Linked DNA regions of Homo sapiens. The protein of the gene in region 2 interacts with the protein of the main gene of each other region in a pairwise test. Each region holds a gene or a part of one and is shown on either strand. Other genes may lie near its edges.

What was found. Proteins that work in one complex are often made in the same cells at the same time.
Region 1: the proteins of MRAP2 (region 2) and ISLR2 interact in binary tests that used the Homo sapiens proteins (3 or more experiments, as listed by UniProt).
Region 3: the proteins of MRAP2 (region 2) and BDNF interact in binary tests that used the Homo sapiens proteins (3 or more experiments, as listed by UniProt).

The regions. Positions count from the first base shown.
Region 1 is NC_000015.10:74,133,586-74,137,341, reverse strand, and holds the end of ISLR2 (immunoglobulin superfamily containing leucine-rich repeat protein 2 precursor), read right to left. Parts: coding exon 2,350-3,756; 3' UTR 540-2,349; downstream 1-539. UniProt on the Homo sapiens protein: Required for axon extension during neural development.
Region 2 is NC_000006.12:84,036,733-84,043,771, reverse strand, and holds part of MRAP2 (melanocortin-2 receptor accessory protein 2), read right to left. Parts: intron 1-7,039. UniProt on the Homo sapiens protein: Modulator of melanocortin receptor 4 (MC4R), a receptor involved in energy homeostasis. Plays a central role in the control of energy homeostasis and body weight regulation by increasing ligand-sensitivity of MC4R and MC4R-mediated generation of cAMP.
Region 3 is NC_000011.10:27,697,417-27,704,565, forward strand, and holds the start of BDNF (neurotrophic factor BDNF precursor form isoform a preproprotein), read right to left. Parts: upstream 3,040-7,149; 5' UTR 2,748-3,039; intron 2,252-2,747; exon of another isoform or gene 1,990-2,251; coding exon of another isoform or gene 1,966-1,989; intron 756-1,965; exon of another isoform or gene 62-755; intron 1-61. UniProt on the Homo sapiens protein: Important signaling molecule that activates signaling cascades downstream of NTRK2. During development, promotes the survival and differentiation of selected neuronal populations of the peripheral and central nervous systems.

The DNA.
Region 1 (3,756 bases), on a different chromosome or scaffold from region 2:
GCTTTACATCATTTGCCCGCTCTGTACTTTGTGTTATTTGTGACTTCTCTTGTGCAAGCCACAGCGGTCTTGTCCCTATGAATCCCATCCTCTTCCCACCGGCTTCTCAGGGAACTCAAAGGCTGATGTGGAGACACAGAAACTGGGCAGTGTGACACCATATACAGCCACACCCCACTACACAGACAGTCTCAAGTGAAAGAGGGTGCCGCACACCCTTGAGTGCAAATATACTTGCACGCACACTCAGACTCCCTGTGTTCAGGGTCTGCAGACACCCGCCTTCCTTTCCTGCAACCTCCCCCTACTCACTTGCAGCCTGCCCTCGTTTTTTGTCACCCCACCCTGGAGTTGGAGACACTAAGAGCAGGGCTGGGTGCAAACACCTGGCAAAAAAATCACAGGATGGTCACGCAAACAGGAAATCACTCAAAAGATTCCAACGGGAGGCTCTGGGGGGGCTCCTTCCTTCCGCGGTTTCCTCCTTCATCGCCCAGGCCTCCTCCCTCTGTCCCCTGACAAAAAGTCACCGAGCCCAGTTCAAATCGATTGTTTTATTGACTGCATACAGACGCGTTTAGAAAAGGGCACGGGCTCCGGGGGGCTACTCCGTCCCAGGCCCGCGCTTGTGCTGCGCTTCGCGGAGAGGGCTGATCCCGAGGACTGAAACTCCCCCCACCCCAACCCCGACGCTTTCTTTCAAAATGGAAAAAAGAACCCCGCCCCGAGTCGCCGCGCCGCGCCCCTCCCCTTCCCTCCCTCCCCGCCCATCCGCCCCCCCGCCCGCCCCCCTACACTACACGGTCACACTTCACAGGACACAGACTTTTCTCCTACAGGGCACGCTTGTCAGGGACTACACGCCGGGCAAACACGATTCCCGCCGAAGCAGGGGCGGGTGGGGCGGGGCGACGCGAGGACCGAGACGCGAGGACGGAGGGGCTCGGCTCCATCCGGATCCCGTCGCACAGTCGCACAGTCACGAGCAGGCTTTGTGCGAACTAGGGCGCGAGCCCTCCAGAGAGCCGCGGCCCGGGAGGCCACAGTCAGCTTCCTCCGCCTCCGGCGCTTTCCAGCTAGGGTCTGGGTCGGGTGGAGCCGCGGGAGCGGCGCTGTTGGGCGCACAGACCTCCGGAAAGCCCAACACACGGACAACGAAATTGGCCCGCGACCAAGTCCACAGGCTCAGCCGCCAAGGGGCGCGCGGTCCTGCGGCGCTTTAAGTTAGGAGAGAGACGACAGAAAACGCATTCCCTCCCTACCCCCCGACACACACACTCGATTTTCCCAGAGGCTGGGAAGGGGGTGTTAGCACCAGACCCGAAATGTCGCTGTCTTTGAAAACAACGAAAACAGGAAAATCTGAGCGCGGAGCTGAAAGGCGCCCCAGGCACCGGGCTGGACTCCAACTGGCCAGAAGTGGGGTGGGGGTGGGAGGACAGAAGGATTTGGTTCCCTGCCGGCAGGAGGCTTTGGAACTAAAAACTAGGGGTTGCCACGAATCCCGGCTTCTGGGAGTAGGGATTGAAAGGGAGGAGGGGCCGGGCGCGGTGCCTCACGCCTGTAATCCCAGCACTTTGAGAGGCCGAGGCAGATGGATCACCTGAGGTCAAGAGATCCAGACCATCCTGGCCAACATGGTGAAACCCCGTCTCTACTAAAAATAGAAGAAATTAGCTGGTCGTGGTGGCGCGCGCCTGTAGTCCCAGCTACTAGGCAGGCTGAGGCAGGAGAATCGCTTGAACCCGGGAGGCGGAAGATGCAGTGAGCCGAGATCGCGCCACTGCACTCCAGCCTGGCGACAGACCAAGACTCCGTCAAAAAATAAATAAATAAATAAATAAAATTAAAAAATAAAAAAAAAGGAAAGAAAGAAAGGGAGGAGGAGGGGTCGAGGTGGGACCCCACAGCACTCCACTGGCCTTGGCTGGCCCCCGAAACCACCGCGTTACCGCGAGGTTTCCAAAGTCTTCGCTCGTTTCCTCTGGCTCCAGAGCCCACGGTGGGGCGGGCTGCGGGGTGGATTTCGCAGATAATCGCGACGGGAATGGAGGGACATAGATATCGCCCACCGTCTGCGGGTGGAGTCTTGCATGGGGTAAGATAAACACTGTGCTTGGCGGGGAAGGGGATTCAGCCCGCAGGGAGAATGGCAGCCGTGGGTAGCAGGGACTGGTGAAATCGGCCCACTCCCTAATAGAAGTCCCTGGTAGTCAAGGTTGGGGAGTAGTAAGGGGGAGGAGTAGGTGAAGGTTGGGGACGGGGGACATAAGTCCTGCCAGCCCTAGACTGCTGCTCCCAGGCACCCTAGGTGGAGGTCGGGAATGGGCGGGCCGGACGGGCGGAGGTTCAGCCTGCCGTCTGCCTGTAGTTGCCATTAATCTCCTGGGCGATGTTGACCGCCTCGGCGCCCAGGGGCAGCCGATCGCTGTACTCAGAGCCCGCCTCGAACTCCTCTTGGTTGGCCTTGGACTGGGACTCCACCAGTGAGCAGGCCGCCAGGCTCTCCTCTCTCTGCAGGTCCCCACTTGGGTCTCCCTGCTCCGCGTCTTCATCAAGGCCCTCCCCCTGCACGTCCTCTGGCTCCTCGCCGCCCGCCTCGCCGCCTGCCGGGTAGCTTTTCTCGGACTCGAGGTACGAAGCACGCGGGTCGAAGTCTGCGGCGATGCGCTTCTCCATAGGGTCAGGGGCCTGAGGCCGCAGGATCAGACGGTAGGGCTTGCCCGGGTGTTTAGCCAGCAGATGGCAGCAGGCGGCGCCCAGAAGGGGCACTGTGGCCAGCACCAGGAGGAATACGCTCACTGCCACTATGACCAGCAGCGATGGGAGCTCCTTCTTGGTGGAAAACACCACTTGCACGTGGCAGGCTTCGCCCGCCAGCGCCAGGCACACGGAGTAGTTGGTACCCGGCCGCAGGCCGCGGAACCAGTAGGCGTTGACGCCTTCCTCTACGCGGGACCACTGCACTGCCGCGCCGCCCCCCGCTGGACACAGATAGAGTAGGCGCAGGGGTCGCCGCCCGGGTCGCGGGGCTCCGCCAGCCCCGCCGGGCCCAGGGCCCCAGCGCGCAGCCAGCGGAGTCAGCTGCACCCGCGCCTCGCGCTCCGCCACATCCAGCGCGATGACGCCCAGCTCGAAGACGTGCGGCTTGAGCTCTGCGCTCTGGTTGAACGCGTGGTTAGAAACGTACCGAGAGGGGTCCCCGTTGCCACAGCGCTGCTCCTCCGCCGGGTCCGCGAGGATCTGGTCTTCGGCCTCCTCTCCCTCACTTGTGTCCTCCTCCGGCTCCGTCTCGGTCTCCCCGAGAATGCTGACCTTGGCCAGGCCTTGGCCTTTGATTTTGCCCTCGGGTTTGGAAGGCAGGACGCTGTTGCCCCGGCCCTTGGCTGTGGACTTGCGCTCAGAGGTCGGGGCCTGTCCGTCGGGTTCTCCCCCGGCGCCAGGCGCGTGTTTTGGGGGCCCGGTTGCTGCCACCGCCACGCGTATTGACGTAGAGTTGGCGCCCAGCTCATTGTGTGCACGGCAAGTGTAGACGCCCGCCTCCTTGGCACTCAGGAGGGGCACCAACAGGGAGCCATTTGCGAGGGCCAGGAAGCGCGGTGTGGCTGGGGGCGCCGGCCAAGCGGGTGCTGGAGTCGGCGTTTGGGCTTGGGTCTGCGTCAGCAAATCCCCATCTCCTTCTCCCTCTCCTTCCTCCGCCCCAACCCCGTCGTCCTCCCCGCTCAGAACCGGTGGCTCTAAGACTACGGTGCCACC
Region 2 (7,039 bases):
ACTGTGGACTGTGCTCTTAAAGAATTCAGGCTTGTATTTCAAACTATCCTCTGCCACACAATGAACTTCATTCTTTCAAATACACCCACCCACCCACTCACCCCACACCCCTCACCCCCCCATACACACACAGCTTGAGGGACAACACAAAAGCCTGAAGACATAGACAGTAGAAACAACAGGGTCATTAAAAAAGGGAGGGCTCATGATGGTACAGGAACCTGCAGCGGGGGAACCCTCAAAATGGTCCTCTGAGCTTTTGCCCATTCAGTTCCACCTGCAAGCTGGACTTCCTCTCCCTCCTTTCCAGATTCCTGTCTACCCTTGAGGGTAGGGATCAGATACTACCTCCTCCAAGTAGATCTCTCCAACTATTTCACTACATTGAGGATCTCTCTCTTCTCTTAAATCCCATTATGTGGATTATCTGAATCTCTCATTTTAGTAGCAAGAAAGTATACATCAGACTCCCCAAAGACTAGACTTGGCCTCTCACTGAGTCCTCATACTGTTTTATATAGCTGCTATTCTAAAACGGCCTGACTAGGTGAATTAAAACTTTAAAGATTTTAAACTTTCAAATTAGACCATTTTAAGAATACCAGGGAATCAACCACTCTTTAAGTTCTAATTAGTGGAGTTATTGAAAGAGTTGGCAGAATAAGACTAAGAAGAGAGACTGGCCGTGTCTTAAATCACTGTGAGGATGACTTGCCAAACAAGACTACTTTGTATTTTTGGCTTGTGGTATCTGTCTCCAAACAGCACACACCATATCACACACTATTTATTATGGTCCTGAGCTGAACCATTCTTTTAGCAAACAAGTGAAAAGGAGAGGTACCAGGTATTTCCAGCTCTGTTCCACAGAAATGGAAATGTAAGTTAAAGCAGTGGTTTATTTAAGAGCTTGAGACACAGCAGTAGAAAAGCTGAACGTTCTAATGACCATCTTATCTTCTGAGGCCTGGGCTCTTAAACTAGGATGTGTGGCTCTTGTGGTTTCTCCACCTACTGCACCCACTGCAACCTCAGGACAATCAATTACAAGCAAACCAGAGTTTGGGGTGCAAGGGCAGTGCAGGCTCAAGGCACCCCATAGCCTCCTCATCTTTCAGGGAGGGGCCTGGCCAGAAAAGAGGGGCTTTATAAAGTGAGGGCAAGAATATAGTGTCCCTCAGCTTGCCAAGGTCTAAGGGTCCCAAATAGTCCCCAGAGTCTCAGGGCATACCTGGTTCATCTTCCTGGAGCATCAATAATACAAGACCTGGAGGATTATGTTTTATATTAAATAAGTGCAGATATGTTACAGAGTAAACTGTAAGAACCAAATAAATGTTTGCTCCTGCCACCTTTGGCCTCTGCTTCAGAATCCTAGAAATAAGGATTAACCCTCCTCTCCCATTGGGATAATTCAGTGGAAGTTTTTAGTCCATTCTCATACTGCTAATAAAGACATACCTGAGACTGGGTAATTTATAAAGAAAAGAGGTTTAATTGATTCACAGTTCAATATGGCTAAGAAGGCCTCAGGAAACTTACAGTCATGGTGGAAAGGGAAGCAAACACATCCTTCTTCACATGGCGGCAGCAAGAAGTGTGAGCAAAAGGGGGAAAGCCCCTTATAAAACCATCAGCTCTCATGAGAACTCACTCACTATCAGGAGAACAGCATGGGGATAACTGCCCCCATGATTCAATTACCTCCCACCAGGTCCCTCCCACAACACATGGGGATTATGAGCACTACAGTTCAAGATGAGACGGGTGGGGACACAAAACCTAACCATATCATTACACTCTTGGCCCCTCCCAAATCTCATATCCTCACATTTCAAAACACAATCATGCCTTCTCAACAGTTCCCCAAAGTCTTAACTCATTCCAGCATTAACTCAAAAGTCCAAGTCCAAAGTCTCACCTGAGACAAGGCAACTCCTGCCTATCAGTCTGTAAAATAAAAAACAAGTTAGTTACTTCCTAGATACAATGGGGGTACAGGCATTGGGTAAATACAACTGTTCCAAATGGGAGAAATTGGCCAAAACAAAGGGGCTACAGGCCCCATGCAAGTCTGAAATCCAATAAAGCAGTAATTAAATCTTAAAGCTCTGAAATAATCTCCTTTGGCTCTATATCTCACATTCAGGTCATGCTTATGCAAGAGGTGGGCTCCCATAGCCTTGGGCAGCTTCACCCCTGTGGCTTTGTAGGGTACAGCCCCCTCCTGGCGCCTTCACAGCTGGCATTGAGTGTCTGTGGCTTTTCCAGGTGCACGGGGCAAGCTATCAGTGGATCCACCATTCTGGCGACTGGAGGACAGTGGCCCTCTTCTCAGAACTCCACTAGGCAGTGCCCCACTGAAGACTGTGTGTGAGGGCTCTGACTCCACATTCCCTTTCTGCGTTGCCCTAACAGAGGTTCTCCATGAGGGCTCTGTCCCTGCAGCACACTTCTGGCTGGACATCCAGGCATTTCTATATATCCTCTGTAATCTAGGTGGAGGTTCCCAAACCTCAATTCTTGACCTCTGTTTACCCATAGGCTCAACACCAAATGGAAGCTGCCAAGGCTTGGGGCTTAAACCCTTTGAAACTACAGCCTGAGCTATACCTTGGCCCCTTTGTATGCCTTGGCCCCTTTTAGCCATGGCTGCAATGACTAGGATGCAGGGCACCAAGTCTCTAGACTGCACGCAGCAGGGGGGGCCTGAACCCAGCCCACAAAACCATTTTTTCTTCCTAGGCCTCCAGGCCATGGGTGGGAGGAGCTGCTACAAAGGTCTCCGACATGCCCTGGAGACATTTTCCCCTTTGTCTTGGCAATCAACATTTAGCTCCTTGTTACTTATGCAAATTTCTGCAGCTGGCTTGAATTTCTCCCAGAAAATGAGTTTTTCTTTTCTACCACATTGTCAGGTTGCAAATTTTCCAAAACTTTTATGCTCTGTCACCTCTTGAACACTTTGCTGCTTAGGAATTTCTTCTACCAGACACCCTAAATCATCTCTCTGATGATCCACAGATCTCTAGGGCAGGGTAAAATGTCACCAGTCTCTTTACTAAACCATAGCAAGAGTCACCTTTGCTCCAGTTACCAACAAATTCCTCATCTCTATCTGAGACCACCTCAGCCTGGACTTCATTGTCCATATCACTATCAGTATTTGGTCAAAGCCATTCAGCAAGTCTCTAGGAAGTTCCAAACTTTCCCACATTTTCCTGTCTTCTTCTGAGCCCTCTACATCTCCAGGAAATTCCAAACTTGCCCACATTTTCCTGTCTTCTTCTGAGCCTTCCAAACTGTTCCAACCTCTGCCCATTACCCAGTTCCAAAGTCGCTTCCACATTTTCTGGTATCTTTAATAGTAACTCCCCACTACCTCAGTACCAATTTATGGTGTTAGTCCATTCTCATGCTGCCAATAAAGACATACCTGAGACTGGGTAATTTACAAAGGAAAGAGGTTTAATTGACTCACAGCTCCGCAGGGCTAGGGAGGCCTCAGGAAACTTACAATCATGGCAGAAGGGGAAGCAAACACATCCTTCTTTACATAGCGGCAGCAAGGAGAAGTCAGAGTGAAGAGAGGGAAAGCCTCTTATGAAACCATCAGTCTCATGAAAACTCATGAAGGCAACCAACCCCCTGATTCAATTACCTCCCAGTGGGTCCCTCCCACGACACATGGGGATTATGGGAATTCAGTTCAAGATGAGATTTAGGCGGGGACACAGCCAAATCATATCACACTGGTAGGAATATGGTGTAGGTTTTATATTAGATAGTTGATCTTAAATTTGTTTCTTTCTCTCTCGTTTCTTTTTTTCCCCACAGAAGATAGAATTATATTTCCTGAAATAATCTATACAAAGGTTTGTAGAAAGACAGAAAACGTTTACAACCACATTCTCTCACTCAGCTCCTAATTTTTCTCTCTTGTTAAACCAGGCAACTTCAAAACTAATCCTTAAGAAGCCCCTCCCTCAGCCTGCTCTGCCTTCCAGTGATTGTTATTTTTGCTATTACCAAGAACATGCAAGAGGAAAACAAATGCACCTTGCAGGAGAATTATTTGAAGCTTACAAACTATTTTCACTTGAAGGGTTATGAAATTTTACTAACGTTCTCTAGTGAGGCAAAAATTACACAGGTCTTGATAACAGAAACACGAGCAACAATTAAACTCAGATTTTAACATATATAATTTTAGCATCTCATAAAGCTAGTCTCAACTTCTGCTTTTTTACTTCATATCTCAACAATACTATAAGGGACTGCAGAATCATGATTGCAAGGAAAATGCACAGTTTCCACCTCTCCAATAGGACTAAGCACTTCTCATACTCCAGTCAAGCAAAAAAATCACTTTGTACCCTGACATGAAGCAAAAATAACATGATCATCCTGCCTGAAAGTTGGTCTCCAAAATAAAACTTCAAACACATCTCATTCCCTTAAAGAAATAATTTTTTCCCTTGATTGTTTGCTATGCTGATGTCTGAAAACAAGTCACGACTTTTAGGAATAGATAATTGTGTAAGAAAGTTGTTTTTAGTCATGAACAACAGACTAATGTAAATGGAGAACTTTGGTAATTTGGTGGAATATTTTCTTTCAAGTATTTATTGTGATTTTATTTGATGAGCCAGTCTTATAAAGCCTGACTCCCTTGCACTCTGGGGAAGTAAACATTTTCTTTCCTTTTCTAACTGCTTCTGCCTCTAAGTCTTCCTTTGTCAAAAGTAAATGTAACAATAAACACAGATTGCTACTCTACTTAATTTTAACCCAAGCATATGTTACCTACTCTGAGCTAGCACAACTTGTGGGGCCTGCTCAAATGTCAACTGTATTTTGGTTTTCTATTGCGCCTCAAAATACACTCAAGGGATTCATCTTCCCTGCCCTCAAACAAATACTTGAGTAGATCCCATGATGTTTCTGCTCATGCAACAACTTCAAAGTCCCAAAAGAGGCCAGTCACAGTGGCTCACAATTGTAATCCTAGCACTTTGGGATGTGGAGGCAGGAGGATCACTTGAGCCCAGGAATGCAAGACCAGCCTGGGCAACATAGCAAAACCACGTCTCTACAAAAAAAGTTTTTTTAATTAGCTGGGCATGGTGTTCTGTGCCTGTAGTCCCAGCTACTTGAGAGACTGAGATGGGAGGATCACTTAAGCCCAAGAGGTTGAGGCTGCAGTGAGCTGTGATCATGCCACTGCACTCCAGCCTGGGCAACAGACAGAGTGAGACTTTGTCTCAAATGAATAAATAAATAAATAAGAAATATAAAAACCTAAAAGAATTAAAATGTCTAATCTTTGGAAACAAAAGAAACTCTGACCCATTATAACACAAATCTGCCCTATTTCTGCAATGTCCTGCTGCATGCTGGTCTCCTGCTGGGGTTGGGGGAAGGTAAACTTCTTTTCTATTTCTCCACCATCCACTCAACTGCTAGCTAGTTTCACATCACTCCAAGACCAAAGCAGGAGGAAAGGACTGAATTAACTATCTTCATACCTCACATGGGTGTGTTAGTAATACTCACCTTCCTTCAGCTGGCTGCTCATTCCTACTTCTGCTGCCAGGGGCCCTCGCCCTTAGGCCAGCCCTTCCTCCCATGTGGCCCCACCTGGCTCCCAGATCATCTTCAGACATCCTTTGCCCAACAAACTCTGGGAAGGTGAGTGATCCAGCCACCTAGGCCCCTGTGTGAGCCCCAAATGCAAGAAGCACATGGACAGCTCAACTCACCCTCAAATGGCCCCACTGAGAGGTGACAACATGCTAGCAGCCCTCGCTCACTCTCAGCACCTCCTCAGCAGTGTCTGCTCCGGCCATGCTTGAGGAGTCCTTCAGCACACCGCTGCACTGTGGGAGCCCCTCTCTGGGCTGGCCGAGGCTGGAGCTGGCTCCCTCTGCTTGCGGGGAGGTGTGGAGGGAGAGAGAGGGGCAGGAACCCGGGCTGGCCAGCGTGAGTTCTAGGTGGGCGCAGACTCAGTGGGCCCCACCAGCCCTGGGCAGTGAGGGGCTTAGCACCCAGGCCAGCAGCTGCAGAGGGGGCGCCAGGTCCCCCAGCACTGCCAGCCTGCCTGCGCCGCACTCAAATTCTCACCGGGCCTCAGCCGCCTCCCTGTGGGGCAGAGCTCAGGACCTGCAGCCCGCCATGCCAGAGCCCAGCCCCCCACCCCGTGGTGGGCTCCCGCACTGCCCGAGCCTCCCCAACGGGCGCCGCCCCCTGCTCCATGGCGCCTGGTCCCATCAACCGCCCAAGGGCTGAGGAGTGCAGGCTTGTGGCATGGGACTGGTGGGCAGCTCCGCCCATGGCCCTGGCGTGGGATCCACTAGGCAAAGCCAGCTGGGCTCCTGAATCAGGTGGGGACTTGGAGAACTTTTATGTCTAGTTGGAGGATTGTATATGCACCAATCAGCACTCTGTGTCTAGCTCGGGGTTCGTGGATGCACCAATCAGCACTCTGTATCTAGCTAATCTGGTGGGGACTTGGAGAACTTTTATGTCTAGCTAAAGGATTGTAAACACACCAGTCAGCACTCTGTGTCTAGCTCAAGGTTTGTAATCACACCAATCAACACTCTGTGTCTAGCTCAAGGTTTGTAAACGCAACAATCAGTGCTCTGTGTCTAGCTAATCTAGTGGGGACTTAGAGAACTTTTATGTCTAGCTGGAGGATTGTAAATACACCAATCAGCACTCTTTGTCTAGCTCGGGGTTCTTGGATGCACCAATCAGCCCTCTGTGTCTAGCTCAAGGTTTGTAAATGCACCAATCAGCACCCTGTGTCTAGCTCAAAGTTTGTAAATGCACCAATCAGTGCTCTGTGTCTAGTTAATCTAGTGGGGACTTGGAGAACTTTTTTGTCTAGCTGGAGGATTGTAAATACACCAATCAGCACTCTGTGTCTAGCTCAGGGATTGTAAATGCACTAATCAGCACCCTGTCAAAACGGACCAATCAGCTCTCTGTGAAACAGACCAATCAGTTCTCTGTAAAGTAGACCAATCAGCAGGAT
Region 3 (7,149 bases), on a different chromosome or scaffold from region 2:
AAACAGGAAACCCACGGACTTTGAGCCAGGATTTTAGAAATTTGCATTTCTTTTTTTACAGGATTTTCCCTCCTGGTGAGTCAAAATGAACAAGAAATACCCCAGGACCTCCCTTCCCTCCTTGGCCATTAATGAGATGAAGGCAATTAACTCACATAGTATAAATGAATCATTTGAGGTGATGACTGCATTTTAGGCAAATGATGACTTTCTTGGTTCCATTGGTTTGCAAGTAAAAGTTACACACATTGAAAAGACACTGAAACAGATTTCCTAAATGCTTCATTTTCTGGATGCACCAATGTTGACCTACTATACATGTTAAATGGTTTTAAAATATCACCTTAAAATAAAGGAAACTTCCAGCTACTAACTCAGCTCTGAATGGGCTATGAAAGGCTCCAAAGGTATGTGAAAAATTACTGTTATTTTGCTTTAAAAAATGTGATGTCTAAGAGTGTCTGCAATGTTCTAATGCTTCAAAACATGTACGTAAGCCTTGTTTATCTGGAAATCATTTCTTTCTGCTTATATCATTTATAAATAGAAAATGTTCTGTAATAACTTAAAATAGTTCCACATACATAATGCTTTTAGTGTCATAATACTTACTACTGGTCTATATTTACCAACATTTATCACATTTTACAAAATGAAGTAGAAGAAAAAAAAGACAACGACTTTATGGCCCTGGAATTCCAGTAATGGTGACCAACATGTTTTAAATTCCAGTAAAGGTTATGGTTACATTTCAACAAGTGTCTCTTTCCTTTTTTTTACCTCTCCTGCTAACCCAGAGGTAAATTTCCCAAAAAAAAAAAAAAAAAAAAAAAAAAAAAAGTCTTAAGCAAGGCATTTGCAAAATCAGAAAACAGGAACAGGAGTTTAGTGATTGTTTTTAAAAGGTGCTGTTCCCAGGGTCAAAACTTTGTGGTGTAATTTCAACATGCTATGTTACCTATTATGTGTAATGCCTTGAAACGCTACATGCCATAACATCAGAAATCTCCAACCTAAAAATTATGTTGCATGAGATAAGCATTGAAGGCACACACGTTCATACAAATTAAATCTGTAATTATGCCTCAATAAGTTAAAATGTAAAGACATATCAAATTGTAAGACCAAAATGGCTTTTGACCTTACAACAAACTCATATAAAAATAGATTTTTCCATAATAATAAAGGGGAGAGAGAGATTTTGCAGGATATTGAGTCAGTAGGGAGGGGTCTCATTTAATATCATGTCGCCTTTTATATGCAGTTAGAAAATCAACGTTCCCAATTACATATTACTTTGCTTTAAAAGATTACTAGGAGGATTAATAAACACTCAGAAATATGCCTTTCTTTGCTTCTGGCCAAGAACATTCCTGCGTGCTTGTCGGAAAATGTTCTTTGGTTGCTACTGACATTAAGGAGTAAGTGCAGGATAACTAGAGGACCCTAAAATAAGATCCAAGAAGCCCTAACACACCGCCAATCGAGGCTTATCAAAGCTCCCCCAGCGCGAGGAAAACTTGCATAGAAGCCAAACAAGAACGAGGAGTCAAAATCCACCGACGACGAGTCGCACGCCCCACCGAGCTGGAGTCAGCAGCACCATTCAACAAGTCCCTCCTACCAGCTCTCTAAGGGATCCCGCAAAACCTTCCTTTACCACTTCCCCACCCCCAGCCTCCCGCCCCCAGTAGCTGCTCTTGGCAGCATGGCCGGCAGAGGGCACCCTCTACCTTCCCTAGCTTCGTTCTCTGGGTCCCCTCCTCCTCCTCGCCTCCCCTCCACCCCGGTCCCTCATCCCCGCTCTACCCCCAACACACAAACACTGCATCCTCCAGTTCACCCTCGCAGCCCCGAGGCTTCTTCCTTAGGGATGCCCCTAGTCTGTAATCTCCCCTTCTTCTTGCCCGTCAGGCACAGAGCCCCCAATCCTCAGCTATTTCTTTCCAGGAGTAACTCACTCACCCATTCCTCTTCCCGGCTCTGCATCCCCAGAGACTAACCCGAGTCAAGAATCCCCCACGTACATCCCAACCACTCCCCGAAAGTCAAAACTCTTAACTTCCCTGGAGGGCGCTTCAGAAGAGGGGCGCAGGATGGGTAGAGATGTGGGTTCGGCCTGCCCGAGAGTGTCGCAGACCCTTTCAGTTCCCAGCGGTAGGAATTCCGCCTCCCAAGTTTTCCAAGCTACATTGGCTTCGGACTTGTAAGTCCACTTCAGTCTCAATTCCTGGGGAGCAGGTAGCCGTGTGCAGCTCCGGGGAAGGGATGCGGGCTGAAGGCGCAAGCTTCCCTCCCACTCCCCCCGCAAGTCGGCGCGGGGACCACCCACCCCCTGGAAGGATTCCTAGCCTAGCCCCAGCACCCTCCCCTCAGTCAGGACCCTCGACAGCTCTGGCCCCCTAAGTCTCTCTCGACTACTCCTGGGCTGGGGGAGGGCTGCGAGGGATCCCCGGGTCGCCGTCTTTGCTCCCATCACGCAGCTCTGGGTCTCCTCCAGGCCTTCCCTCCTCTACTTCGTGACTTCCCCGGGTCCCTTTTTCCCTGGTGGTGCCGGCTGACCTTCTGGGTTGTGGGATGGGGGAGAAAACTCCCCAAGAGTAACTCCAAATCGTCCCTTCTACCGGAGGGGAGGAAAGAAGGAGACTGGCCTCGTCCCACAACTTTGGGGTGGGGGATCCCCCAGTCAACTCTCTCCCGCGGACGGGCAGCTCCTGCACCAAGCCCCATTCCCAGCGCTTGCCTACCTCGGGGTCCACACAAACCTCACGGGTCCCCGGCGGCGGAGTCACATCGTGGTTCCGATTCTGGCTCCAGCGCCCAGCCCCGGTCCCCGTCGCGGTGCTGCTCCCCGCCGGCCCCACAGCAGCGGTGGGTGTCTCATTAAAGCCCCCCGAGCAGGAGGTGGAGGGGCGCACCGGGCTGGCTCCTCTGTCCGGCCCGGGAGCCCGAGGCGCTACGGGGTGCGCGGGACAGCGAGCGGGCGGGTGCGCCCGGGCGCGGCGGCGGCAGCGTCGGGGACCCGGAGCTCCAGGCTGCGCCTTGCGCCCGGGTCAGACATTATTTAGCTCTTCGGTTGAGCTTCGATTGGTCAAACGGCGCCGCCCCCCCCCCCCCGCCCCCCGCCCCCCGCTCCCCGCTCGCCCGCGCTACCGATACCCGTTCGAGGCGGCCGCTTAAAGGGAACGCCGCGTCTTTTCCTCGCGCGGGGAACCGAGGGGCGCCCGGAACTCCCCGCTCCCCCGGGGCCTGTCCTCACCTCCTCCCCTAGGGCCCCGCGACATCGCCCTGCGAGTCCTGCGCCCTCCTGGGGCGCCTTGGACAGGACGCCCGCGGCTTCGAGGGGTGTTCCAGCCCCAGCCTCAGCCCCGGGGAACCCCGCGTCCCGCGCCCTCTGCAGAAACCCCGGCTGTGGGCGCTGGGGCGGGAGGGAGCGAGTGAGAATCGCACGCCCCGAGGTCTCGCTCCCCTAGCTTTCAACTCTCCCCTTCCTCCCCATCCCAGCACCCAAGTTCTCTGGGAGAGGGCGTGCGTTTCCCGGGCCACAGACACACCTTCCCGCACCTTCCTGCACTACGGAGCTTGCGAACGCGAGCACACAATGAAATCGCACAGAGCATGGGGGCTATTGGTTTACTCTGCTGCCTTAAACACGCCGGCTTAAACAGAGTTCGCGCACTGACCTCTCTAGAGTTTGCCTAATAGGAATTCAATCAAGATAATAACAGCATTTTTTATTGATGAACGCCCCCAGATAACGTTACACCAAGTTACTTGTTCCAGCCAGGAAGCCCAGGCAATGACAGACCTCGCTAAAGCCACACGCTTTCTAGCCGACCAAACAGAAAAACGGAAAGAGAAAGAAAGAAAACAAACCCACCTTTTCAGTCACTACTTGTCAAAGTAACCATCAAGGCAGCTGCTCCGGGAAAGACTTCGGCCCCAAAACTCCCACACTCTATTATTTTTTCACGTTCCCTTCGCTTAATTAAAGGGGGGAGGGGGCGCGAGTCTTTGGTGCCCGGTATGTACTCCTTCTGTTCTGCAGCAAAGAAGTTAAATTATTGATAGTGGAAATTGCATGGCGGAGGTAATACTCGCACCCCATCAGCGAGAAGCTCCATTTGATCTCGGCAGAGGCAGGGAGATTTCATGCTAGTTCGCCGGGGGGAGCGGCAGCGAGAGCAGCCCTCTCCGCGGTGAATGGGAAAGTGGGTGGGAGTCCACGAGAGGGCTCCACGGTGCCTTGACGTGCGCTGTCATATGATACCTCCGCTGCCTCGAAATAGACACTCTAGTGCACGAATTACCAGAATCAAAATTCAGCGCATTTAAAATGATACATCTTTTATTAGAAGAGTTCCGTTCCAGGGCATTGCATGCTTTTGCAGATGTTTTCACTTCCAGCCCCAGCAAACACACGTATAAGCTAACCCTTTTAATAACGAACCAGGGCAGCCAAGATAAATAAAAAGTCTTCTGCTTTAACCAGAGTGGGGGTAGGTGATTCGAGGGTGGGGGCAGAACTGGCTCAGTTAATCCTCCCCCGCCCTCCACCCCCACCACTGCCCGCAGCAAAAGAGCAAATAGCCTTTCGGGTTCTCATTTGCCTGTAGCCAAGACCCTTGAAGAGAACTTATATGGCTAGGGTCCAGAGGACATTTTCAATTATCCATTTGATGAACTCTGTCAACCGTCTACCTGTGTTTCTGCTTTAAAGCTGAATTTTCTTCTCATTAGTTCAACCAATTTGTGCAGACCTTAAAATTTAGAATAAAGAATAAGACAGCAGTACCGTACTTAACTTGGAGTCCCTGGACCTCCTCGGAGCATAAAAATCACCTGGGTGAGTGTTAAAATGAAGGTCCCTCCTCCTGAAATTGTGATTTAGTAGGGGTGGGGCAGGGCCCAGGAGTTATAATTTTAATAAATACCACAAGCAATTCGAATGCAGACAATCTGAAGTCACACTTTGAGAAACACTCTCTTGGGGGTACAACACTGGGTATCAGAGGAATCTCCCACCAAGCCCACACCCAAATTCTGCAGGCAGCTTTCTGTGTGTGTGCGTTTTTCTGTAATCTCAAAGGGGTTTGACCTAATAATTGCGAAGACTATTGCTGTAAGAATTTCCCTAAAGACTCCAACATTAATTTTGCTAAAGGGAAAGATTTATAAACAGTTTCCTTTCCTGGACCCTCTTGTGGTTACCAAGAATGTGCTGTTGAACTGAATATATAATATTATTACATACTCAGTTCAATTTACCTAAGGGTTTACAGTTAGCAAAATGAATTCACTAACATTAGCTATTTTAGAACTTCTAAAGACTAGTGACAGAAATTATTTACCCGTTTTATAAAAGAAGAATCCGATCCTCTGCCAGGAAATAATTTACCCACGTTCACACAGTGAAGTACCAGGGACAAGACTTCAGTGAACTCAAGAATTCCTGCTAGAAATAACCCTGCTTCCATCTCCCCCACCCCCTAAGTGAAGCTATCTGTTCCTTGGAAGTGTTATCAGAATGTGTGATCATTCAGAGCGCCTTTGCAAATTGTTGGACTAAATAGTCAAATTATTCAAATATATGCATATTCTTCGAGTGTCACACATTTAGCTTTGCACCTCTGTCAACTTGACAGAGCACATGACCAATACAAACTACCCTACAGCACAGATGGCAGAGTTTATTGTGGAATATTTAATGTATGTGAAATACGCAGGCTAACCAGAAAGCAATAAAGGACAGAGGGCATGAAGCTGGATACCGCTACCCCACAGACCCTCTGCGTTGGTTCCCAGGTTGTAAGATGAATGCAGGCACAATTTCTTTTAGTAGCACAATACAATTTAAAAGGCTAGTGTTATACATTTAAAAAAAATACTTGTACTACATTATAAAGGACTGGAGGAACCCTACTCCAAACTTTAACTTTGTTAACTTCAAACTGATGCTTCACATTTGCTTGAAAATGAGTTCTACCCTCAGGTTTTTAAGCTCAATTGTAATTTATTTCCTTCCTGAAAAAATACCTGGCAAGTTAATGCCAGGAATCTAAGCTAGCATTCTGAAGGCTGCTCACTTAGAAGTTATGGCAAATCTTTTTTCTGCTAAATTCACATTGGCACGTCAGCATTTCTGCTGAAGGAAAAAGTGTTCTCATTTCCCAGACTCTGATTGGGTGGGTCTATGGCCAATCTTCTTATTCCTACTCTCCCTTGACATTATATAAATAAATGTGTGTATCTTCGCTTTCCAGTGTGTGGTGCAGTTTTACTGAGGAAAAGACAGAGGAGTCAGAAATGTCAGGGATATTTAGAAAGAAAAGAAGATCAGATGCCAATTCAGATAACCATGATGAATCACACCTCTTAACACTTGTAAGCATTTCCAAACTTTCTGATTTGTGATTATAGCATTGCCAATACTGTATGCGACCAGCTTAAAACATGTACTTATTTGCCTTAAAAGTACATCTTACATTCAAAAACAATGAAGCCAAGATAAACAAAATTGTACCAGTGCCTTGCATGGAATTCTAAATATTATTTTTTATTTGCTTAATTCAGGTAGCATATAGAGATAATTTTGGAGGTCTAAAATCAAACATTTTACAAAATTATTTCCCTATTGTGGGCAAGGATGATGCTGAGAATATAGAGCATGCATTTCTCTTCTTCTTAAAAATTGGCCTCTGGCATAATTGATATGTTAGGAGCAAAGTTTCCAAGTTTATAATCTGAACATTTTCTCTATTACTAAAATGAGGGAAAGTTTCACAGCTTGAAAAAATAATGCTACCTATTTCACTTTTGTGGGGCTTAAAAATTAATTGTGAATTCGTCTGAATCTTTATTTCTTTTTGGTTATGTTCTAATATGATCCTAACCCAATGTTCCAGGGGGAACAAAGGTCAGGAAGAAATTTGAATTCCCATCTATTCTTGTCGGGAAATATAAACTAATCCTCATTACTCAAGTGAGAACAGAGGTAGTAGGCTTGACATTGACATGTTTTTTCTATTAATAATTTTAATTGGCTGAGGTCAATTCTATCACTATAAGCATTTTATATTTATGTTTATTTAAGCTTCCTAGTTACTCCTACCTTCAGTATTCCTTGCAAGAAAAAAAAAATAAGTTGTC